Regions from separate parts of the Homo sapiens genome. Here all the other regions are linked to region 2. The links come from fine-mapping of genetic effects on gene expression. A gene starts in region 2. Each other region holds a variant in brackets. All regions are shown on one strand. Distances are between the middles of the regions.

What was found.
Region 1: its variant is fine-mapped to the expression of CABLES2 in unexposed skin (GTEx, PIP 0.99).
Region 3: its variant is fine-mapped to the expression of CABLES2 in iPS cells (iPSCORE, PIP 0.95).

The regions. Positions count from the first base shown.
Region 1 is chr20:62,374,226-62,382,394 of GRCh38, reverse strand. LOC105372708 (a long non-coding RNA gene) reads left to right here and starts at 3,568. Exons shown (of 2, transcript XR_936966.4): 1 at 3,568-4,115; 2 at 4,909-8,169. RefSeq lists enhancers at 431-1,111, 3,785-4,386, 6,795-7,396, 7,397-8,000. The variant T/C (reference allele first, on the strand shown) is at 4,072.
Region 2 is chr20:62,403,947-62,412,115 of GRCh38, reverse strand. It overlaps CABLES2 (Cdk5 and Abl enzyme substrate 2), which reads left to right and starts at 4,831. Exons shown (of 10, transcript NM_031215.3): 1 at 4,831-5,201. The coding sequence starts at 4,840. RBBP8NL (RBBP8 N-terminal like) reads left to right here. Exons shown (of 14, transcript NM_080833.3): 14 at 1,120-1,879. The coding sequence ends at 1,238. LOC105372709 (a long non-coding RNA gene) reads left to right here and starts at 5,222. Exons shown (of 2, transcript XR_936967.3): 1 at 5,222-7,226. RefSeq lists an enhancer at 1,373-1,432 and a silencer at 4,665-4,914.
Region 3 is chr20:61,800,260-61,808,428 of GRCh38, reverse strand. All of the region lies in intron 4 of CDH4 (cadherin 4), which reads right to left. Among named protein-coding and RNA genes, the nearest start is that of CDH4-AS1, 49 kb to the right of the region's middle. RefSeq lists enhancers at 4,788-5,308, 5,309-5,829. The variant T/C (reference allele first, on the strand shown) is at 4,035.

The sequences.
Region 1 (8,169 bases), 30 kb after region 2:
GCCTGTCCAGTGCTCAGAAAAAGGTGTGGCACCCAGCATACTAACACTCACCATCATCACCATCATCATTGCTACTACCATCATTGTCACCATCACCACCATCGCCATCACTATCACTATCATCACCACCACCATCATCACCATCACCACTATCATCACCACCATCATCATCACTATCATTATTGTCATGATTGTCTATCACCATCATCACTGTCAGTATCATCGTCACCACCATTGTCATCACCATCATCATCATCTTCACCATCATCTTCACTATCACCGTCATATCCACCATCATCGTCACCATCACAACCACCATCACCACCAACACACTGTCACCATCATCACCATCATCACCATTATCAACATTGTCATTGTCACCATCATCATCATAACCACCATCGTCACCACCATCATTGTCATCGTTATTATGCCCAAGATCACAAGACTAGGTCTGGATTTGGGGCTGTTGACTCAGGAGGCCACACTATAGCCACCCCAATCTCACACGGGCCCCTATTCAGGATGCCTGGGCAGGTATCTGTGCACAACAGCCCTGGCTCTGCTCTCCAGCCCCTCCTTCAGGCTCACCTCACAGGCAGGTAAACATGTTCTCAGACATGCTGTGGTGCGGGCTGGGAGAAGAGCCTCCCTCCTCCTTCCCAGAGCAGCTGTTTCTGGGCCAAGCAGGGCCCAGGCCAGCCCCAAATGCATTGTGTGTAGAAGGGAACAAGCCCAGAACAAGGAAATCCTCCTTCCAGGCCAGGGAGGTGGGTGTCCGGGTGAGTGGCAGGTCAGGGCCGTGGGATGGGCCTTCTCCTGCAGCGAGCCCGACACTGAGCTACAGCCACCAGCCCCCACTCCTGCCCCAGATAGAACCCGCTCTTGGGTGAAGGCTACGATAGCCAGCCTCAGAGTGGGACTTATGGGGTGTGGGGAGAACACGGACCTGGCCATGAGCTGTCAGGGGATTCCTGGGGCACTGCCTCCTAAGCCATGACTCGACATCCTCTCGTCTTGGAGAGACAGAGGCAGTAACAGCCCCGCCCCAGGTTTGCAGAGGCTTAAGTGAGGTCACCAACGTGAGGGGGAGGCCCAGCTGCCCGGGAGCCCTGGAGACTGTCACGGCATTTGTCACAGGGACCCTGGGAGTGTTGGGCCAGCGCATCTTTCCATTTCGTGCCATTCAGTTTTACTTTAACTCACTTTACTATTTTGTTTTTTGAATTTATTTTACTTGATGAGACTTTAGAATTTTTACATTGAGGGAGAACCTACCTATGAGAAAGTGCCCAGATCCTGAAGGTCCCACCCCTGTGGTCACGGCAGGCACTGGGTCAGAGCCTGGGGGTCCAGGGTACCTTCCCCACCCCCCTCCCCAGAGGCTCCTCATGCCCCTTTCCAGGACATGGTGAAGACAGGCAGAGGGGCTGGGCTGGCCGGGCCTGGGCACTGGGTACTGGGTCCCACCGTGAGTCTCCCTGGAGTACAGGCTGACCCAGCAGGGAGACCCGGAGAAGTCCTCTCCCCACACCTCCTGGGGGCTGGCTGAAATCTGAGCCAAATGACAGGAAAAGAGGCACTTCCATCCCAGTGGACACACCAAGGGCTCCCACGCTGGCCAGGCGCCAGGCCAGCTCAGCCAAACTGGTTCAAAGAAAGGAAGCTGAAGGGGAGACCAGAAGCAAGGCCCACTCTGCCTCCAGGACCAGGCCCACCTGGGGCAGAGACTGGGGTCTGTCCCCACCCGGGACCTGTGGGCCTGTATCCTGACCTGGGCCCAAGCTGACCTCTGACCCCAGCATAGACGGATCCCCAGTCTCGGCTCCAGGCCAACTTCTTTTTTTTTTGAGACAGAGTCTCGCTCTGTCCCCCAGGCTGGAGTGCAGTGGCACGATCTCAGCTCACTGCAAGCTCCGCCTCCCTGGTTCACGTCATTCTCCTGCCTCAGCCTCCCAAGTACCTGGGACTACAGGTGCCCGCCACCACGCCCAGCTAATTTTTTGTATTTTTAGTAGTGACAGAGTTTCACCATGTTAGCCAGGATGGTCTCGATCTCCTGACCTCGTGATCCGCCCGCCTCGGCCTCCCAAAGTGCCAGGATCACAGGCATGAGCCACCACGCATAAGCCACCACACCCGGCTTTTTTTTTTTTAAGACGAAGTCTCGCTCTGTCCCCCAGGCTGGAGTGCAGTGGCGTGATCTCGGCTCACTGCAAGCTCCACCTCCCTGGTTCACATCATTCTCCTGTCTCAGCCTCTCGAGTAGCTGGGACTACAGGCACCCGCCACCATGCCTAGCCAATTTTTTTTTTTTTTTTTTTTTAGCTGGAGTTTTGCTCTTGTTGCCCAGGCTGGAGAGCAATGGCGCGATCTTGGCTCACCGCAACCTCCGCCTCCCGGGTTCAAGCGATTCTTCTGCCTCAGCCTCCCTAGTAGCTGGGATTACAGGCATGTGCCACCACGCCTGGCTAATTTTGTATTTTTTTTTTTTTTAGTAGAGATGGGGTTTCTCCATGTTGGTCAGGCTGGTCTCGAACTCCCGACCTCAGGTGGTCCGCCCACCTCGGCCTCCCAAAGTGCTGGGATTACAGGCGTGAGCCACCGCACCCGGCCTCCAGGCCAACTTCTGACCCCAGGCCCCAGCATTCCGGAGCCAGGGCAGCACCGTAATTAAGGCAGAGACCTGGGAATCAGGCCTGTTTCTGGTGCCACCTCCACACACACCCGGCCCTTCTCCTCCCTGAGCCTCAGTTTTCCCATTTGGAGGCAGGACCGTTCCTCCTTCACCGTGGGTGGAGGGGAGGATCCACAGGGAAAGGGACTGCCAGGGACACCGTGAGGGGTGCACTATGCAAAGGCAGTGTCGCGTCCACACGGGGTGCACCTGCAGACACAGAGAAAAACTAACTTTTACTTTTGCTGCTGTTTTCCTACTGAAAATGGGCCACCTCTGGCTGGGCGCGGTAGCTCACGCCTGTCATCCCAGCACTTTGGGAGGCCAACGGGGGCAGATCATGAGGTCAGGAGATCGAGACCATCCTGGCTAACACGGTGAAACCCCGTCTCTACTAAAAATACAAAAAATTAGCCGGGCGCGGTGGCTCACGCCTGTAGTCCCAGCACTTTGGGAGGCTGACGGGGGCGGATCACGAGGTCAGGAGATCAAGAGCATCCTGGCTAACATTGTGAAACCCCGTCTCTACTAAAAATACAAAAAATTAGCCGGGCGTGGTGGTGAGCGCCTGTAGTCCCAGCTACTCGGGAGGCTGAGGCAGGAGAATGGTGGGAACCCAGGAGGCGGAGCTTGCAGTGAGTGGAGATCGCACCACTGCACTCCAGCCTGGGCGACAGAGTGAGACTCGTCTCAAAAAAAAAAAAAGAAAAGAAAAGAAAAAGAAAATTAGCCACCTCTGTCTGCCTATGTGTCCAGGAAGGGGCCTGGGACTGGCTCTCGGGGCCTAGCTCCTCCTGCCCTCTGGGAAATGTGCAGAATGTCTAAGCCAGCAAGCAGGCATGGGAAGGGAGTGGCCGGCCGGATGCAGGGCTCCATGGAACAAGTTCCCCAGTGCCAGGGCAGGACAGCAGGGCCTGGAGAGCCATCATCAGCAGGCTCCATCCTTCCACCTGTGAACTGTGACCTGAGAGGAGCCACCTCCTGGGAGGCCCACGAGGGGTCCTGACCAGCAGCCTGGCACCTGCTGGGGCCACGCAGAGACCCCATGGCAGCCTGCGGGAAGGGCAGTTATCATCCCATTGACAGAGCAGTGACTGAGGCCAAGCGGGACGGAGTCGCTTCCCTGGAGTCATGGAGGATTCGAGGGCCCGGCATGCCCAGTGGGAATGGCGGGATTTCGGGCACGGCACGTCCAGAGGCAACGGTGTGAGGCCCCCTCATTTCTGGAGCCCTGCTGGCGCCCAGCCGGGAGCCTGGGATGGGCCCCAGAGGAAGGCGGCTGGGACTCCTGCTCCACCCCCACCTCCCCGAGCCCATCCCAGCTGCTTCTGAGAGCGTCGGGCTGGACGTGCCCGCACGGCAGAAACAGGCCCAGAGACGAGGCTGTGTTTTGC[T/C]TGAAAGCCTCTGCGGAGTGATGGAATCCACATTCCTGCCCCAGGTGAGTCGCCCAGGCTTGTCTTGCTCAGCCTGGCTCTCCCAGCTCCTCAGGGTTCCCAGCCACTCAAGGTTCCCAGCTCTGTGGCCCGGCTGGAGCTCCGAGGCCCTGGAAGTTCTTGTGGGACCCAACAAGCCCCTGAGGGGCAGCCAGAGGCCCTCATCTGCTGGGACTCCTGCAGGTGGCTCCGCAGGGTCACAGGTCGCCCTGGGCCCTGGGGCCACAGTGAATGGATCCTAAGGCTGCCCTGCAAAGGGACCCCAGAGAGGGGATGGGGTTGCACCCCCGGGCCGGCCACTGCGTGCCATGCAGACCTCTCAACCGGCCATGCTGGTGGGAGGCGCCCAGCAACTGGCAGGGCCCAGGAGGGTTCCTGCCAAGAACCTGGCACCCGGCCTGGGAGTCAGGCAGAGCCGCGGCCCCCACCTCCCTCCCACAGCGCCACCACCTCTCAGCGCTTCCTGGGGCCCCTGCCTCGGGGTGCTTTTGCCCACTCCCCTCAGGGGGCCTCACGGCCACCCAGCAGGGAGGCACCATTGTCCCTGCTCAGCACTTGAAGCCCTAAGACTCTCCCAGGCTCCCAGCCAGGGAGGCACTGAGCCAAGACTGGGCAAGGAATGGGCCAGGCCCACCAGCTCCCCAACCATCCGGCCAGGACACAGGGCAGCCCCTGCCTGACTGCTGTCCCCAGGAGCCTGCACCAGGAGCCAGGAACCATCTGAGCTCCAGGCCTGCATGACAAGGCTACATGAGAACCAGTATTGATTCATTTCATTCATTCACTCCACAAACACAGGTGCTCCTCGACCCTCCGTGAGGCCACGTCCTGATAAACCCGTGGTAGGTTAGAAATACCGACAGCTGAAATGCTCTAATACACTTAACCCACGGAACATCACAGCTGAGCCTTCTTGCCTTATACACACTCAGCACACTTCCATTAGCCTACAGCTGGGCGAAGTCATCCCCCACGAAGCCTCCTTTATAATAATGCATCAAATGCCTCACGTAATTTGTCCAATGCTATAAGAAGGAGAAAAACAGATTGGTTGTGTGGGCACTGGAAGTACGGTTTCTACCGAACAATTGCAAATCAGAAGCCGGGAACCGTAGAGCACAGAACACCCGTCATGTCCACCCGCCATTTCCAAGCCCCGTGCTGGGTACAGGCGCTCCTTGGTGCGTGGAACAGACAGCCCTGTGCCCAGGGAGCTCGCAGCCTAGGACGGGACAACTGGCATCCCAGGAGGGTGTAGGGCTGTGAGTCTCACCGGGGAGATTCAGCCCCGGGACATGGGGCTACTCAGAAGATATTTTTGGTTGTCACGACTGGAGGGCAAGTGCTTCTGGCCTCTTGGGAGTGGGGGCCAAGCGGCCCCACCTCAGGTCAGTGTCCAGCCAGACTGTCTGACCAGCGCCTGTTGAGGGGCTCTGAAGGGCCATGGCCCGGATGAAGGGGCTCCAGGGGCAGGGTGGCCAGGGAAGGCCTCTCTGAGCAGGGGACTTTCACAGAGTGAGCGGAATTGAGATGGCCCGGTTCCTCTGCAGGTCCCCACAGCCTGGGAAGAGGAGAATCTGAGAGCACGGCCGCCTGGGGGCAGGCCGAGGCAGGCGGATCCTGAGGGAGCAGCCGCCTGGTGCCAGGCCTGGGGAATTCCAGGAGGCAGAGGCCTCAAAAGCCCTCCTCCAGGCTCCGAGTTCCCAGCAGCCCCTGCCACATTCCTCCACCTGGGTGGGCAGGGGTGCAGGGGCTCAGTGCATTCCTGGTGGAGATAGGGAGGCCAGCCTGCGGCCTGCGCCAGCCTCCTGCGGGGCCTGGGGAGCCCTGTCCAGGCTCTGCCGAGCTCAGCATATTGGAGCTGAGCCAGTCGGCCTTTGCTGGAACACTCAGGCGGAGGTCGCCTTTCGCCTTTCTGTGTGGGGAGAAGCCACTTGCAGATAAGGCAGGGATTCACCAGCTCCGGGGGGCTGGCAGGACATGGCCACACTTCACCTGCAACCAAGCCTCCCCATCTGTAAAATACAGATAACAAGGGGGCCAGGCGGTGGCTCACACCTGTAATCCCAGCACTTTGAGAGGATGAGGCCTGTGGATCACTTGAGGTCAGGAATTCGAGACCAGCCTGGCCAACATAGTGAAACCTTGTCTCTACTAAAAATACAAAAATTAGCTGGGCGTGGTGGCGAGCACCTGTAATCCCAGCTACTCAGGAAGCTGAGGCAGGAGAATCGCTTGAACCCGAGATGCAGAGGTTACAGTGAGCCGAGATCGCGCCACTGCACTCCAGCCTGGGCGACGAGCAAAACTCCATCTCAAAAAACAAAAAAAAACAAGAGCAGGTCCCTCGCAGGAGATGGGAGCCAGCTCCGCGCCCGGCCTGATGTCGGCTGCACGGGCTGCCTGGCTCTCCTGCACAGAGGTGGGAGGGAGGCACGGGGGGGCCCAGGTCAAGAAAACACAACCCCCACATGTTCAGGGGGCTGGAGGTGGGGGCTGCGCCTCTGACCTGAAGCTGCCCAGCAAGCCCTTTGTGGAGCCAGGAGCAGGCAGTGGGCAACTGGGCCGACAGGCCCTACCCTGGCCGCCAGGAGGCTCCGTGGCAGCTGCTCTCTTGCACGCCATCCCCACTGCCACTCCCGGGTTCTGAGAGAGAGCCCCATGGGAGGCCACGCACAGACCCCTGACCTGGCTGCCGGGGGTGGTCCAGATCCCTTGCGAGAGGAAACGTGGGCCCCCAGTGGACCCCAGCACCATCTGTGGTCAGCGGGAGCCTTCCAAGTCTCCGTGTGTTTACATTCCCCCAGGAAATAGCTCCCCAGAAGAGCTGCAAATATTTTCTTAATGTTGGAACTTGTGGCAAACAGAGGCCTGGAGTGGGCCCACCCACACTTTGCCCCTCCACACATCGGGGGCCCAGTGGGATCCTGGGGTTACCTCCTCACCTGGCCCACCCCCTCCCCCTCCCCCTCCTGGCAGGGGACAGGCACATGGGGGCCCAGCTGGGGCATCTTCCTGCCGGAGCTGGGGCAGCCAGCCCAGGGGATTCAGTGGCACTGCCATCCTCCCACCTTTCAGCCTTCCTTTCGTGAAACTGGGCTGGCAATAGGTGGAGGTGGCTGAGGTGTTGCTTGGCGGTTTGAATCAATGAAGACCCTAGGGGACGGGGGTCAGGCCCTGGACCTGCCTAGTAACTCAGGCTCCTGGCAGACCGGGCTGAAGACAGAGGCAGCTGCGGGGCTGTCTCTCCCGCCCCAGGCTGAGTCAGTGTGTAGGGCTGGGTGTCCTGGGTATGTGATGGCCCTAAACACAGGCCCCCACCTCTCTGTGCATGAGCACAGGTCCAGCTGGTGTTGGCAGGCTGTGTGGGTGGCCCATAAGCACCAAGAAGTACCCTGCTTCTACTGACCTCCACCTGAAGACTCCCAGGCACCTGCCCGCCTGAACTGGCTCTGCAGGCTCACTCAGCATCCACGTGCTCCTCCCTCTCCCCCTCCACACTGGCGAGGGGCCAGTGGCCATGGCACATCCCAGGCCTCCGGTCCCTGGTCCCTGGGCAGCCCCTCCAAGAGCCTGCCTGTACAGAGTGCCGCTCCTGTCCACTGATGTCTACTGTGTGGATGGACCACGTTTCTCTCCCCAGTCGACCCTGGATGGCCGTTCGGGCTGTTTCTGCCTGATGGCTCTGGTGCCTGGCGCTGCCGTGCGTGTTTACCCACGAGTGTCTGTGCAGAGACGTGTTTACGCTTCTCTCTGCAGCTACCAGGTGTGGAGCTGCTGGGCCGTGTGCAACTGTGTTCAGTCCTTTGAGGAACCACCAGCTGGTGTCCTAGCAGCTCCCACACTGGACACCACACTGGTCCCCGCAGGATCCTGCCTGTAGTTGTTATTGTCTTATTTCCTGATTCTGTTGGTGGCTATAGAGTGAGGATCACGGTGTGGGCCTCAGGCGGGCATAAAAAGAGGCTGGAGTCTGGGCACTGGGCCCTTGCCTGCCACGCCTGGTGTGGGAGGATGTGGGTCCCGGGGCAGTGGGAAGGTGACGGGAGAGGGGCGATC
Region 2 (8,169 bases):
AAGGGCAGTGTCCTTGGACCCAGCTCCTCCCAGTAATGCCGGCAGGAGCCTCGGCCCTGGTCCGAGGGTATCGGGACAACTTTTCACTTCCTGCTCTGGGCTCAATGGCAGCTCCAGCTGGGGTCCAGGAGCCCATGAGAGACTTTGAACACCTAATTGTATGGCCCTGGTTTTTCTCCGGGCAAGGCCCGCAGGCAGCAGGCGGGGTGGTGCCGCCACTGTGTGCCATTGTTGCCGGCAGGTGGCCATGGCCTGCGTCTGCCCGGAGCGGCAGTAGAGACCAGCACGGCCCTTATTTGAGGCACTTCCTGCTGAGTGGGTGGAAATGGCCCCGGGGGGTGCAGTCTGTGAGCCAGCACACCCTTGTGCTCCTACCTGAGCCGGGACCAGGGACGCTGGCAGGGGCTCCTGAGAAACTGCTGTGGCGATCAGTGAGAGCAGGTCCCTGCCCAGCATGAGCACAGCTCAGCGCCAGAGCCAGCATCCTCGTGCCTAGTGCCCCAGAAGAGTGGGTGCAGCTGTGGCTGCCTGTGAGCCTTATGACCCTGCCCAGCAGGTAGGATCATCACTGTTTGGCTGGTGCAGAAATTGAGGCTGAGAGGGGAGAGGTCACTTGCCCAAGGTCACAGGTCTGGGACTTGTGTCAGGATTCAAACCTGACCCATTCAACTCAGAGCCTGAGCTTGCTGTGCCTCAGAGATGGCCTAAGCCCAGCATCTCGGCAGGATCCCCGTCCCCGGACCATCGCAGGAACCAGGCGCCCCTCCCATGTGGCCCTAGCCCGGGGGCAGGCCTGCTGAGGCCCGCAGCCAGTGTCAGGCCAGCCAGTATGGCCTGGCTCCCTCCAAGGCAGGAAGGGGGCCACTGGGGTCAGTGCCGTGTTCGGGGTCACACAATGGGGAGAGTGTCCACCCTCCACCCAATTCTCAGGGTTCACCCTCAGATCGGGCTACCCCTGCTCTGGGCACCGGTTTCTGTAGGAACAAGGGTGGCCAGCAAACTTCCCCAAGCACCCAGCTCCCCGTGCCCAGAGGAGACCCAGGAGGCCCTAGGTGAGAGCCAGTGTTGCCTCAAAGGAAGGCACACAGCTCCGGCCTGACCTCCGGCCACTTCCCATAGCCTCCAAAAAGCCATCCAGAGGGAGAAGGAAACTGACAGCCACTGAGGGGCCCGGGAGCCCAAGGGACGCCGAGGACCACAGTCCCTCCCCCAACAGCAGCCCCTGGGAGGAGACCTAGCCAGCCTGCACCAGGGTCCACAGCGAGCCCGGGGCAGCCCTCCACCTGCCCACCAGGGCCTGGAGAGGGCACACCATCCAACCAGCAGGCAGCCCTGCACAGAACCCTGGGAGAAGACCTAGCCAGCCTCAGCTGAACCCACAGTGAGCCCAGGGCAGCTCTCTGCCTGCTCACCACAGCCTGGAGAGGGCACACCACCCAACCAGCAGGCAACCCCGAAGAGCCGGTGACGGGCACATCCTGGCCCACTTCAAGAGGGGCTGGAGGACCGAGAGGGGTCTCAGGCTGGCGATTCACCCCGTCTCCACCCACCTGGGAAATGCTCTGCGGCCCCTCCCACAGCCCAGCACCTGCTCCCTGAGGGGTGTGGGGACTGGAGGCGGGATCACTCAGGCTCCAGCCCAGCCCTACCCCTGCTGTGCACTGCAGCCGTTCCCAGGCAGTGCCCACGCTCTGGGAGGCAACGGACCACTCGGACCCCCACCCCTGCCCGCCAAGCTCCAAGCACAATCTTGGACGCCCCCTCGTGGGCTGACAGCAAACAGATGTCTGGCAGTGAGGGTGGAGGGAGACAGTGGGCGGCAGCACCCTCGAAGACCGGGTCCCCTGAGTGACGGAGAATAAACACTTGAAGAACCGTGCATGTGTCTGGCAGGGCCCCAGGACACCACTGACTGTGCCAGGGACTGGAGGTCACCCCCTTGCGGGAGGGCAGAATAAAACCAGCTCCTCTGCAGAGTCTGCAGCGGGAAGGGACCAGGGCACCCTCGGGGAAGTGCCTGGCCACAGCGGCGGCCGTGTGCACCTGCCCCTCCTCACTAGTCCCTGGCCTGGCAGCCACAGGGCAGCTCGCCAGGACTCCACCGGGAGCACTCAAGGCTGTCTGCTCCTCGGGGGAGGATGAGTATCAGTCCCTCCCAGCTTCGTGGGAGGAGCTTAAGAAATAGATTCTTGGGCCCAACCCCGGATCCACTGAACCAGGACTTTAGAGGTGAGCCTGGAGTCTGTGTTTTAAGAAGCTCCCAGAGGTAATTCTCCTAAATGTGAAGTCTGAGAACTGCCCCTTACAGGGCAGAGACACTGGGCACTGACACCTCTGCTGGGCATCAGGGAGCGGTGGGCAAAGGAGCAATGGCACCAAGTCATGGCCAGTGTTGGGGGACGGGGAGGAGAGCAGGTGTCCCTGGGAGGTCAAGGCAGGTGGCACCTGCAACCCAAATTTGGGTTCTGAGGGATGAACAGGAGTGTGCCAAGTAGGCAAGGAGCTAGGATGTTCTGGGAAGTTTGCTGAGACCCCAACTCTAGAAAAATGGACAAGGATCAGGCAGAAAGGAAAGGTGGGGGCCACGGAGGGGTGCCAGGGCAAGGGGGAAACTAAGAAGTCAGCCCAAGGGCCAGGCCTGCAGTCAGGAGCATCCAGACAGAGCCCTGCGCTTGACACCTGCTCAGAGTTCAGGGTGAGAGCCAAAGAAAATAAGGAGCGAAACTCATGAGCAGGGCCCTCTGCAGCCAAAGCACCAAGGTGAGCTGGGCATTTAAAACCACGCATCACAGGGATGGCAGGACACGGGCCAACGACTGGGCTGGGTGAGGCCTGGGCCAGACTGGGGTGCGGGCCTGACTCAGGGGGCACTGCCTCCCACCTGCAGCCTGTGACATGTCTGCCTGTTGTCCTGAGAGGCCAGAGGGACTGAACTCCCAAGAGGGAAGTCCAGGTGTGTTAAAGGTTGCTTTAATTTCTCCAGAATCACACGAAACAAAAGCCGTGTGTTCCCTACACACTGCCCGCAGGCCAGGTTGGCTTTTGGCCACCCATCGACACCCTGGGGAGGGGAGAAGACTGGCAGCGGGAGCCTAGCAAGGGGGTTCACCAGACCCAGGAAGAGACCCCGTTCCTTCCTCAGCATTCCTCCTTGTCCCTCAAAGTCTAGCTTAGCGCCAGCAAAGAAGAACTGGCTAGGGGCCCCCCTACTGCACAGCCGATCCCCAGGACCCGGCGCTGCAGCCAGCACGGACAGCTGCCTCCTGCCTCCTGCGTCCTGCCCTCCACCCTCACTCGCCCCTTTCTGTTCTCATCTGACACCAGATTCTCTGCAAGCTGCTGGTGTATGGCCCACCCTCCCCTGTCAGGCCCCTCCTCCTGGTGATAGCCAGCAGGGATGGAGGGCCCACTGTGTGCCTGCCCCAGCCTCAGCACCCTACAGCGCTGGACACACTCACTCCCCGCTCACGGGAGCCCCCAGGCACACAAGTCAGCACCCCATTCTGTGGATCCAGAATCCGCAGCCACCCCTCTGCTATGCCACCCAGCCCCGCGTTCTCCTAGACAGGACAGCTGCCCACCTTCCCCTAGGCCTGGCAGAGGCCTTGGAGGCCAACTTGGAAGGGCGGAGGGAAAGGAAATGGAGGTGCTGCATGCTGCGTGAGCCCCAATGGTGGCCCGTGAAGGCCCACAGGAGGGAGCAGGCAGGCGGGAGGTGGGTAGGGGCCTGAAGGGCAGGGGCCCATGCTAGGGGTGGTGATGAAGACCCTGTCTTGCCCACTCGCCCACTGCCTTGTTGGCCATCATGCTGCCTCCCCACACACCAGGTGCTCCTAGGGCCAGCGCTGTGCCTGTCGGTCCCACCGGGTCCCCAGCACCCAGCACAGGAGAGGCTGGGCGCATGCGGGCAGGTGCGAGGTACTGCAGCGCATTCGCGGACTGACCACTGCATGTGCCTGGCCTCCGGCCACAGCCCGACCCCCTCACTGAGCCAGTTTCATCCTGACAGTACCCTGAGGCTGAAATCATTGTCCCCTCTTTAAAGATACGTAAACCCATGAAAGAAAGCTGGACAGAGCAGGCAGGTGACACAGAGGTGGGTGCAAGGTCCTGAGTCCCTCCACAAAGATACAGCGGGTTCCCCTCCAGACTGCAGACAGGCTCCCGGGCTCCAGAGGCAGGCCCTGACCATCCCGGTGCCACGGGCTCACAGGTTCTGAAGTCAGGGGCACCCAGGCACAGAGAGGAAACAGGCCTGGGCACAAGGCAGGCTCAAGGTCACTTTGCTACTGCAGGAAGTGCAGGACTCTGCCTGGGGCTTTGATCCCAAGCAGGTGCCTTCTCCACTCAGACCCTCGTTCCCTTCTGTCAATGAAGGAGGCCAGATGGCACGCGGGCCCTTCCGGGAAGCGGTGGGGCTCCTCCAGGGGCCGCCCTGCGCCCGCTGAAGCGCCGCCCAGACACACCTCCGGACAGGGAAGTGTGCTGGGGCCTCACCCACGCCGCCCTGGGTCCGGAGCCTTAAAATGTGCGCTCGATGGAGGCCATCCGCGAAGGCCGCCATACAGCAAAGGGAACAGAAAGCGAGAGCCCCGCGGCCGCAGGTCCCAAGACGGGGACTCGAACCGGCGGGGAGGCGCGCAGCTCCCGACTCCCTGCTGCTGCGTCCGACCGCCTCTAGGACCCAGGGGAGCGCCCTGAGCGCGGCACCTCGCTGGCCAATGGGAGAGCGCGACGGCGATACATTTGCATGTGGGCGCGCCGCGGCCAATGGGCGGCGGGCGCGCGGGCGCGCGGGCAGGGGGTGGGGCGCTTCGCGGCGGCGGGCGCAGTCTGAGGATGGCCGCGGCCGCGGCCGGTGGAGCCCCGGGCCCGGCCCCCGGCCCCGCCGGGCCCCCGCCACCCGCCGCGCCGACCTCGGCCGCTCGGGCCCCGCCGCAGGCGCTGCGGAGGCGCGGGGACTCGCGGCGCCGCCAGGCCGCGCTTTTCTTCCTCAACAACATCTCCCTGGACGGGCGGCCCCCGAGCCTGGGCCCGGGCGGAGAGAAGCCCCCGCCGCCGCCCGCCGAGGCCCGCGAACCGCCAGCGCCGCCGCCGCCGGAGCCCCCCACCGGGCTGCCCGCCAGGACCCCCGCGCCCCAGGGCCTGCTCAGCCCCACGCAGGTGCCCACCGGCCTCGGCCTGGATGGGCAGCGCCAGAGGTGAGTGGGGGCCCGGCCAGGTCAGCCCAGGACGCGGGGTACAGGGACGGGGACGGGGGCCGGATCAGCCCAGGACTAGGGGTCAGGATTACTTGGGGCCTCATCAGCCCAGGACAAGGGGGTCAGGTGACCTGGGGCCTTGTCAGCCCTGGACAGAGGCCAGGACAAAGGGGTTGGGTTCACCTGGGGCCTTGTCAGCCCTGGACAGAGGTTCAGGTGACCTGAGCCCCTGTCAACCCAGGACACAGGGGTCAGGGTCAGTCTGGGCCCTCATCAGCCCAGGACACAGGGGTTGGGTTCACCTGGGACCTTGTCAGTCCTGGATACAGAACTGGGGGTTCCTGGGCTGGCTGAGGGTTTCCTCAGGCCCTGTCACCCCCCACACATAGGGTTCATTGTCCCCTGAATTCTCCCAGCCCCTGAATACGGGGTCTGGATCTCCACGTTGTCAGTGCTCTGAAATGGGTTTTAGGGTTCAGCCCTTATTACCCCTGAGACCCCCAGCCCTGTGGGTTCTGGACATGCCCCCACCCCCATCCACTGGTACCAGTGCCCGGGACACAGGGACACATGGACAGCCCTGTGCATCTCTTCGCATTCTTTGAACCGGGCCACACCGTCCATGCCCACCTCCTCAGACCCAGCATGTGGGCCGGGGTCCTCCTGGCACTGTCACTGACACCTGTTCCCAGAGGCCCCTGCACAGCCACATCTCCCATCCCACAGCCACTGGTCTCTGGCACCCCTCCTCTCCCTGTCACTTCCCTGCTGAGCCCCGCCCTTCCCCACATCACTCTCAGCTCGGTATCTTTGGGTCTGTCACACCCTGGGTCTCCACTGCTCCCCCTGCCTTGATTCCATTTCTGGGAACCACCTCAGCCCATCCCAGGGCAACCCCAACCATGAGCCCTGCCTGTCCAGCGTGTGCCCCCTGCCCAGATGGCCCCTGGCTGCCCGACACCCTGTGTCCTTCTCCCAGAGACCACAGGACCTGGGTGACCCTGCCTCCCACAGCCCTCACCTCCAGGAGTGACTGTGGGCTCTGGGCCCAGGACTGGCTGCTTGTTGCGGTTCCTTCTCAAAGGGAGCCACTGTCCACAGGTCCAAGTGCCTGCTGGGCGGCTGTTCCCAGAGGCAGCCCCTGCAGGTGTGCAGCAAAGGGGCCGACACAGAGCTCTTGGGTCAAGGCTGGCACGTGCTCCTTGCTTACCTGGAGGTCATCAGAGTTGCCCCACGCCCCTGGCCTTCGGGCAGGTGGAGGCATTGGGTTCCTCTAAGGTCTTTGGTTGGGGAAGTTTGGGCCCAGAACACAGCACTCTGTCCTCAAAGACTATGACGTCACATGCAGGTTGCGTCACACGCAGGTCGCGGTGCACTCCATCCTTGGAAGTGTTCCTGGCCGTAGCCAGGCTGAGGGTGCCTGCAGACCCAGGCCTGTCCACAAGATGTCCCCCCACGGACATGCCTGGCCGCTGCTCCAGGGAGGGTCAGAGGGATGATTGGGGCAGAGGGATGGATTTGCCCAAATGTGGCAGCCAGGCCCCATGCATTTGGCATGGCCAGCTCCTTCAGGAAGGCGGGAGAGATGGAACAAGGTGGTGACTCTCCAGGGCAGAGCGGCAAGGCCCTAAGGTGTGGACTCCAGGGGAAGCGGGCTCACCCCAACGGGCCGAGCTCCGCAGGTGTGGTGGGCTTTTCCCTAACCCCGGGCCCTGTTGTTTGACATGGAAACAGCTTTCTCCCTCAGTCCTGCATGTTGAGTGTCCAGAACCGGATGGTGACACCAGGCAGACTGGGTGCTGTCATAGGCCCTCCTTCCACAGAGTTCATGCACCCCTGTGTGCACCAGGCCTGGCGTGGAGTGGAGCCCACTTGAGTGGAGGGAGGCAGAGCGTGGCGACGCGCAGGGAAGTGCCTGTGACTGAGAAGGCACCCCCTGCAGGCCCAGAGCCTCCATGGTGACAGTTCTGAGCGCAGCATGCTGCCCACGTGCAGCACATCCCTGCCCTGTGGGATTGTTAGAAGGTGCGCTGTGGCCGGCATCCCTGGGACAGGATGGGACGTGGCATGGGCTGGGTGCCTGCAGTCCTCCTGCCGTACCCACCATGGGCCCAAGCGCCACCACCCCTTGCCTTGCCCAGGGCTGTCTCCTCCCTTCCCTCCTCCTTGGCCCCCATGTCCCTGTTCAGGTCTTTCCTGAACCCCACTCTGTTCCTGGAGGGGGAGGCGTCCCTCCTGGGGCTCTGCTGCCAAGTTCGTGGTGCTGACCTTGTTTCTGAGGGCCATGGCCCCTCCCTGATAGGTAGACCCCAGCGTGAGGACGTCCATTTCACCCTGCGTTCCCTGGGCCTGGCTGCTGATCGAGGGAAGGGTGGCTGCCCCGGCAAAAGGGGCTGCTAGCTCCTGGCTTGAGAGTTCTAGGATGAGTTGGTTTCAGGAAATGGAGAGAATTCTGAAAGTCCTGAAGGCAGCCCTGATGTTGGTCTTGTGAGTGTGGTGGTTTGACCTGGGCTCTGGGAACAGACTTGGCTTGGAATCCCAGCTGCACTGTTCAGTACCTCTGTGACCTTGAGCAGGTGACATGGCCTCTCTGAGCCTCAATCTCCTCTGAGAAGCGGGTTCACACTAAGCACTAAGCATGGCCTCCCTGAGGTCAGAGGTCAGATGCGTGCCCAGGGCTTGGTGAGGTATGTGGCAGGAGTCAGTGTGAGATGAGCAGAGCCTCTTTTTTTTTGAGACAGGGTCTCTCTCTGTCTCCCAGGCAGGAGTGCAGTGGCGCAATCACAGCTCACTGCAGCCTCTACCTCCTGGGCTCGAGTTATCCTGTCTCAGCCTCCCAGTAGCTGGAACTATAGGCACACACCACACCCTGCTAAGTTTTTATTTTAGCAGACATGGGGTCTCACTATATTGTCTAGGCTGGTCTTAAACTCTGGCTCACGTGATCCGTCTTGGCCTCCCAAGTGCT
Region 3 (8,169 bases), 600 kb after region 2:
TGCAGGGCGGAGTGATTATAAATGTGTCTTTGCACAGAGACGTAGCTGTATTTTTTTAAATTTATTTATTTATTTATTTATTTATTTTTGCAGCTGGTGTTGCTACATTTGAAACAAGTCCAAGAAAACAGATTGTATCCCTTAGGTTTGAAATCAAAGTGGGGTTCTGGAAGTGAGGATTCCTCAGTGACTGGCTGAGACGGGGTGATTTTGAACCCAGGGCTGGGGTGGGGCTTGCAGCTCTGTTCCTGCCAGAGCCACGGTTCTGGGCCCCCGCAGCCTTCCCCAGGCTGTGGGGGCCCAGTGCTCAGCTAAGGAGGATTTATTTCCATGCTGCTTCTGTGTGGCAGGGGCATGCTGACCACACTTGCTGGTCTCAGCTCCCTTGTGCCGGGATTCCCAGGAGCTGGATTACTGGTTCATTGTCAGGGCTGGAGACGTGTGTGGGCTCATCGCTGCTATGGCAGCTTGCCCTGAGGCGGCACCCAGACCACCCAGCACTGTGCTGGATCGCGCTGTGCCTGCATCCCGCCAGGCCCACAGCCTGCTGCCCAGTGGACGGCCTCTAACCTAACGAAAGCGACAGTACTGACCATCCTGCATGGATATGTGCTGTGTGCAGAGACGTCCTATCACTTCCCTTCCTATATTTCAGAACTCCCAGCTAGCTGGGCCTCCTACTGGCGCCAGGCATTTTCCGAGTCGGTTTGTTCATCACACCGTTTGAGTCTGAAGAGCCGTCCACAGTTCCCCAGCTGTTCTCACAATCTTCTGTTTACCTCCCCGAATGCTATTTGGCCACCACTCTGTGGCTGGCCTCACACCAACCAGCCCTGCACGGAACACCTGCCCTTGGTCACACTCCCCTCGCTGATGGTGGACACAGCTGCACCTTGACGGGGAGAAAGGGCTGCAACTTCCCAGCCGGGAGGAGATGGAGTAGAAAGAGGAGGGAGATTTCCAAATCCAACACATTGAACTTGAATAGCCTCAAATTCCGACATTTAGGTACCCAGACACCCTGTTACGAGAAGCTGAGGGTAAACTCTACAGCTCAGGGAATCCTCTCCCACCGCCCACTCTCCTGAGATCCAAAGACCCCAGCGGGGCCACAGCAAGGCTGGGTCTGGCCCTGGTGGTTCTGAATACAGCTCCATGGACTGGACAACACCCAGTCTCTACAACATCACTGACTTCCTTCCCCAGGGCAGTTCTCCCACAGGCCACTCCTCTGTCTGGCAGGACCCACCAGGCACCTCCCGAGGCCCTCCCGGCACCTGCCCCACTGGCCTTGCAGCTGGGGGCTGGCGGGGCTGCGGGGCCCTGGGAGCTCATAGATCAGGGGATGAGCGAGACATTTTCAAAATCATCTCCTGTGTCAGTTTCTTAGCAACCCATTATTAGAGGGCTTTGTAGTAGTTAAAAAAAGATCCCCTGTCAAAGTGTAGCTGTGATTTGGAGAAGCCCCCATCTCTGTACCGTGCATTACGGGAAAACCTGGAGTGCAGCGGCTCTTACCCAGGTCCTCCAGGCCCTGTGGCCACCCCTCCCCAGCAGGAGACAGGAACAGGCACAAAACACCACCCCCAGATGCTGACACTTCCCACTCACAGAGACGGTGTGCACATGTGTGTGGCAAAACATGCATGTTGATGAACATGTCCCTGATGTCTGCTCACAGCAGCCGTGGCAGGGACCAAGGTTTCCTCCTGTGTCCTCACTTCCCCCGCAGAATTAAACAGCCCCAAGGGAAAGGTGAGGCAGCTCCTCCAGCAGCCCCTGAGCAATTCCAGTCCGGCCTCTGCTACAGCCCCCACCCTCCACCTGCTCCGATGGTACTGCATGTGTGTGTGCGTGCGCGTGGACATGTGTGTGCGTGCGCGTGGACATGTGTGTGCACACGTGTTCCTCAGATGCTCACTTGGGTATGGAATTGCCTCCCCACTCCCTTTTAACAGGGCACCTCCTCACCCTGGGTGTGCACGGCCGCACAAACTGTGTTTCTGGTGCCCTCCTGCAGGCGAGTGGACGGTCCTCCCCGTGTGTTCCTAACCCCGTGGGAGGTGGTGGTGCCTGGTCTCCTTGTCCTGGGCATGAGGCTTTGGGTAGGCTTCCTTAGCCCTGTGGACGCCCCCCTCCTCATCTCTCCAGTGGTGACAAGAACACTCCACCCCCAACCAGTCAGGCAGGCAGGCCACGACGCCTGGCTCTGACATCTGGGAAGACGCAAGGGTCCTTTTGGCTACTAAGAGGTCACTGCCGCACTGTCCTACAGAATAGGCTGTTGCCTAGAACAGACACACATGTGGAATTCCTTCCAGAATGACATCCTGCAGCCATTCTAAATGTGCCCCGAACCACAATGCTTTCAGTACTGGGTGCCACAGAGCGGAAGGAGCCCCCAGGCGAGGTTTCCTGCCTTCCCCTTGCCCCAAGCACCCACCTCCCAGCGGGCCTGCGTAGCTTTCCACAGCACCACAGTGGACACCGAGTGAGTGATGGTGGGTCTCTCCTGAGCATATACCTACATAGCTGGCAACTGCCGGGCAATGAAGATCCCATATTTTGGCTCTTTCTAAATTAAATCTGCTTTGTGGAGCTCTGGCTGTGACAACTCATGCACCCACCACAGGGCTGGATGATCTTGGGGTGATGGCCGGTGTGAGAGGGCCCCTCCCTGAGTTTGTTTTCCACGGATGATCAATGAGCTTGAGCATCTCCCAATACACTGCCCTGGCCTCGTGGGAGTTTTAAACATACCTCTGCCATGCGGTAGGTTGGGTGGCATCAGGCAGTCGAATGCTCCCCAGGTGATTCTGACCTGGGGTGGGTCCGAGACCCCCGGGCAGGCTGCCCTCTCTGTGCTGCACACAGGAGCCTGTGTTTCCTCGCAGGAGGGCGAGTGTCTGAGGCCGGGCAGGGGAGTGTACCCTCTGGATCCCGGAAAGGTTGTGCCTGGCCGGAAAGGTGGCCCTGACCCTTGCTGGCCTTTATGGTTATGGGGCTCGGGTGTGGCTCTGTGGGACACCCAGCCATGCTGCCCACCTCCATCTGCCAACACAGAGGCCATCCTGGCCACTTCTCAGCAGATGCCTGTTTGTTTTGCTTGCTCACTGTCCACTGTCCACTCTCCCCTCTTCTGGGGACAGCACCCCAGGGATCCTTAGGGAGCTGTTCTTCTCTGCTCCTCTCTGTTCTAGTAGCTTGGGTAGGGATGGGGGGCTGGGTCAAGGACTGGCCAAGCAGAGCCTAGAGTCTTCTCAGCACCGTACCGGCTTCCGGCTGGGCATATGAGCCCATCAAAGCCAATGAGTCACTCCCAAGATGTTTGCTGGAATGACAAGAAGGAAAGGACCTCTCTTTCCACGAACTTGGAGTTACTGGGATGCACTCTTGGCCTGGCGCTGGGGCTTCTGTGGAGACCGGGGCTAATGTCAAAGACGGCAGGTCTGCGGGATGAGGGGAAAGCGCCTGCTGACTCTGGCATTGTCTGAGCGCCTAGATCCTGCCGGGCCTGAAGCTGACAGCTCTGTATGTTCCGTTTATGTGCCCCATAAATCTTGCACTTTTCACTGGCCTCTGCCTTTTAGAGTTGGCTTCTGCCCCTTGCAACAGATGAGTCCTGACTGTTCTACTCCAGACCTCTGAGCCATCTCTTCTTCTGGTTTCGTACTTAGATGGTGATGCCTCCACACGGGGACTCCCCTCTGGACTTTCCCTGCACTTCTGAGGCTACGGCCACTCCCTCCCCTGGAGGATCCCCACACTGAGGCAGCAGAAACCTGACACACCCACCAGGCGAGAGCTGGGCAGGTCCACAGAGGAGACAGGAGGGATGCTCAGAGGGGAACCCATATGGTAAGGAGAGGGCAGGACCTGGAGGCTTCAGGAGGAAGGGGGACTGAGTGCTTTCGGTGTGGCTCAGAGGTCCAGACAGCAGAGCTGCCCCCCGGGTGTGGCTGACCTCCAGGTGACTGGTGGCCAGCAGTGGGTGAGGCCGAGGCCAGATGCAGAGGCTGGACGGCGGAGAGGGG[T/C]GGTCAGACAGCATGGACAGTGGCTGTGCAGGGGACAGCTCTTTGCCTCTCCTGTCACTTCTACCCGCCTCGGTCCTCTGTCTCCTCACCTGCACCATGTGGCTGGTGACACCCGTCTGGTGATGCCTCAGAGACAAAACAGAACCTGCAGAGGCCAGCCCCTCACCTGAGGGCGAATCTCCAGCCCCGTCCTCAGCACAGCAGTTCGGGCGGCTCTCAGGCCGCCATGCAGGCAGGACCGACATCCTGCAAACTGCTGTTTCCACCACCTGCTCCGGGTCCCAGCTTGACACGTTTTCTGTCGTGCCTCCTTACCAACAACAAGCTCGTGTGGAGAGCAGGCGCCTCTCTCTTGGCAAGAACATTTGTGAGTTTGGCAACTTCCTTGACAAGAGATACTTGCTAAACACAACAAAAAAGTTTCACTCGTTTCTGCTTCCATTACCTCCGCCGTCTCGGCACCGCCTCCTGGAAGCAGACGCAGCGGGGGCCGGCCTCACGCTCTGCAGCGATGGAGCCTGTTCTCGTTTCTCCTGTCCTTCCTGGGTGGCGTGTGTTTTTCAGTTTTGAGTTTTCTAAGCTGCAGAGCCACTGGAAATGGAGCTTTTCTTACAAATGACTTTCACTGACAGTTTATAAACATCGAGTGATTTGCTAGGGCTCTGGGAAGCACACAGTTGAACGTTTCCTTCCAACCTCCCTTGGGGAACGCAGAGCTCTGGGCGCCCCCTTATCCTGGCCATGCAGAGTAACTGGAATCCCGCAGCCTCAAGATGCCCCACCCTCCAGGCCACCAGGCCTGCGGCTCGCCCGCGGTAGCAGAACTGATTCCTAATTTGGATGGATTCCATTCGCTGGAGGATGAACTCAGAGGGGCAGAGATTTCGGCTCTAATCCCCCGACCAAAGCTACCTTAACATGTAATCAAGTTACCATTTCATATTTCCAAATAAAGTTGAACAGTTGAACGAAAAGATTTCATTTGGGAGCCAGACTTAAATTTAAATACCGCCCGTCTCTTGGTATTAGGGAGTTTTAGACTTTCAAATAACCCAGCCCGGGGAAATTGGGTTGGACAGCCTCTCTGGCCGCACTTCTCTGCCTGGCTTCTCTAACTGCCAGCCCGGGCGGATTGTGCCGAGCGTGGAGAGTACCCAGGCTGCTCCCTGCCACTCTGAGAGCATCCAGAGGAAGACCTCAGCCCGTCCACAGCCGCCACGACGGGACCCCACAGCACATCGCGGACACACCGTCAACGACGGAGCTGCGACTCGCCGCGCTGCTGAGACAGGGCTGGCCGCTCTACAGGCAGGCAATTAGCAGTGGGGGCGTGGGAAGGAGGGGAGCGCTGTCCAGACCTGTTGGTAAATCAGGCCCCGGCAGTGACAAGGTAGACACGCCGCCTCCTCTGCCTCCCCAGCTGCCATGTTGGAGAGAGCCAGACCCAGGATAAACAGAATTCGGAGAAGCCCCTCCAGCGAGAGCCAGCCTGCGACTATCCCGCAAAAGGCAGCAGCCAGGAGGACGGGGAGGAACGCTGCATGCACCTGTGAAGCCTCTGTGGACGGCGGTGGCCACAGACAGGGCCCCGTGGTGGGAAGGCCCGGTTCCTCCAGCCTCTCCTCCCAGGCATCGCCCCGTCTAGGCCCAGGTGGCACCTGTTTCCCCCTGCCCGGCCCCCAGGCTGGGAGGCAGCTCCCAGGGCTGCGCTCTGCCTTTTCTCCATTTCCTTTGCAGCCATTCTGCAGTGAAAATGGCTGATTTGCTTGAAGCAGCAAGCGAAAAACCCACGCGTGGACTCCCGTTTGGAAATTGCTCCCAACGGAGACAGTTGTTTTTTTTTTCCCCAAGTAAGTTTTCCTTCAAAGCGATGCTCTGCAGAGAAATTCCTTTCTTTACAACTAACTCAGAGACAGTGAAAACAGGGACGATGGGGCCACCCCCACGATTTTGGGGGAGCTTCAGTTTCCTCACATACTTTCTCAGGCACAACTGACCCCCACGAGGTTCTCGGCTACACACAGCAGGGTGGCTGCAGGGTGGGCTCTTTAGTCTGACTTTTGGGGTTCAAAGCCCAGTTCTGTACTTTGAGCTGTGTGACCTTGAGTGAGAATCCTGACCTCTCTGAGACTGTTGTCTCTGCTGGGAACAGAGCATGATCAGGGTGTGTAGCGCCCTTTCTGGGGCTGCCACAGGGGCTGAATGAAGCCGAGGAGGGGTCTGCCTGGGCCTGGCTCCAAGGAGGTGCTCTGTGAATGCAGCTGTCTTTGGCATCCTCGTTTATAAGAGAAAGGTGGGGAGGGCTTGAGGACATTGCCGGACAAAGGGGCAGAGACCAGACCTGATTGAGGCCCGCTCTTGCGCCACTTACAGGTCTGGGAACTCCATGGCATTCTCTTATGGCAGCAAGGCTGGCTGAATCCGGCTGCCAGAGACATCTGGGTTCTCATCCTGGGACCAGTGAATGCCACCTTCCATGGCAAAAGAGAGTTTGCAGACGTGATGGAGTGAAGGATCTTGAGATGAGGCCCATCCTGGATTTCCCAGGGGCCCCTCAAGGCCATGTGAAGGGTCCTTATGGAGGGCAGGAGAGGGAGCTTTGACTACAGAGGAGAAGGTGATGTGGAAAGAAAGCAGAGAGAGGCTGGAGGAGGCTGTGCTGCTGCCCTTGAAGACAGAGCAAGGGGCCAGGAGCCACAGAGGTGGGGCAGGAGCCTCTAGAAACGGGAAAGGGCAGGAGATGGGTCCTCCCCTAGGGCCTCCAGTGGGAGCATGGCCCTGCTGACCCTTGACTTTGACCCACAGAAACTAACCTCTGACTCTGACCTCCAGCACCATGTGGGGCTACACGGGGCTGTTCTCTGCCACCTGGTTTGTGGTGATTTGTGACAGCAGCTCCCGGCAACTCACACAGACAGGGAGTGACCACTGAAGGAACACCTACTTCGGCACTTCAGAGACACAAAGAAGAGGACAGGTGGCTTCGGGATGACGTCTCAGAACTCTGAGGGTCCATGGCTTTAACCACACACACCAGTGTTTGTGGTTGATGCCCTCAACCCTAGAGAGACGCTTGGCTGATGCGGCTGGACACCCTGGCCCTGCCCAGAGGCTGCCTGACCCCACTCCCCCAATGTCTAGGTGTCGGGGGACCACCCTGCTTTCTGCCGGCTCTCCCGCTGCAGCCTGCAGACACTGAGAGGTGCTGCTGTCCATGCCTTTTGTCCCCAAGCCCTCAACACCTCCCAACGGGAGGCAGGAGCCCCGGTGCTGTGGCGTCTTGAGGACTAATGTCACTGCAGAAGGTGGGTTTCTCAAGCCCCCACCGAAAACCAAGCCTGGGGTTGCAGTGCCCAAACTGACAGATGAGAAGGGGACAATCAGTGCCCCTCGTAGCTGCCCCCAACCAAGATGCTTGGAGGGTCCCAGGAGGGCCCTGCAGCCATGCCCAGGCCTACCCTATGTGTGGCGCAGATGGGCCCGAGGCCACTGTGGAGTGGACACTGGCCATTCTCACTGGTGGGCTCTAAGGATGTGGAGTGCCAGAGGTTACACGCCCCAGGGTCCCCAGTGGGCCTGTTATCAGGCAAGGGAAGGCAGGGAGTTCCAGCCCATCTGTCTCCCAGCCCCGGCCCCTTGGGGTGTGTCCAAGAGGCCATCTGTGCTCTCGGCCTGCCTGAGGCTCTGCCTTGAGCCGGGCACTGCCAGCACTTCCTGTGAGCCCCCTGCCCATATCCTGGGGACTTAAGGTTGTCAGGTCCTAAGGGCAGGCAGTGGTCCTGGAGCTGAAGGGCTCACACTGCAGCCCCGCTCTGCCCTGTCTTGGCTGTGTGTCTTTGGGCAGGTGTTTTACCCTCTCTGGGCTCCATTTCCTTTCTGTGGGGGGCGATGAGGAGATTCACAAGGATAGTGGTGGGAGAAGCACCATCCCCCGTGGAGCCATAAGGTAAGAGTGCAGCAAATGGTTGCAGTGACAGTGGCCCTGAAGCTGGGTCAGCCCTGCGGCGGGCATGGGACTCTTGGCGTAGTCTAAAGGGAGTGCCCAAGGAGGGGGCAAAGAGTCGGCTACGCAGAACTGCCCCTGCCCGGTCATGGGGCGAGGAGCTCTGCCCCCCTGGCGGCCGGGCAGCTTCCC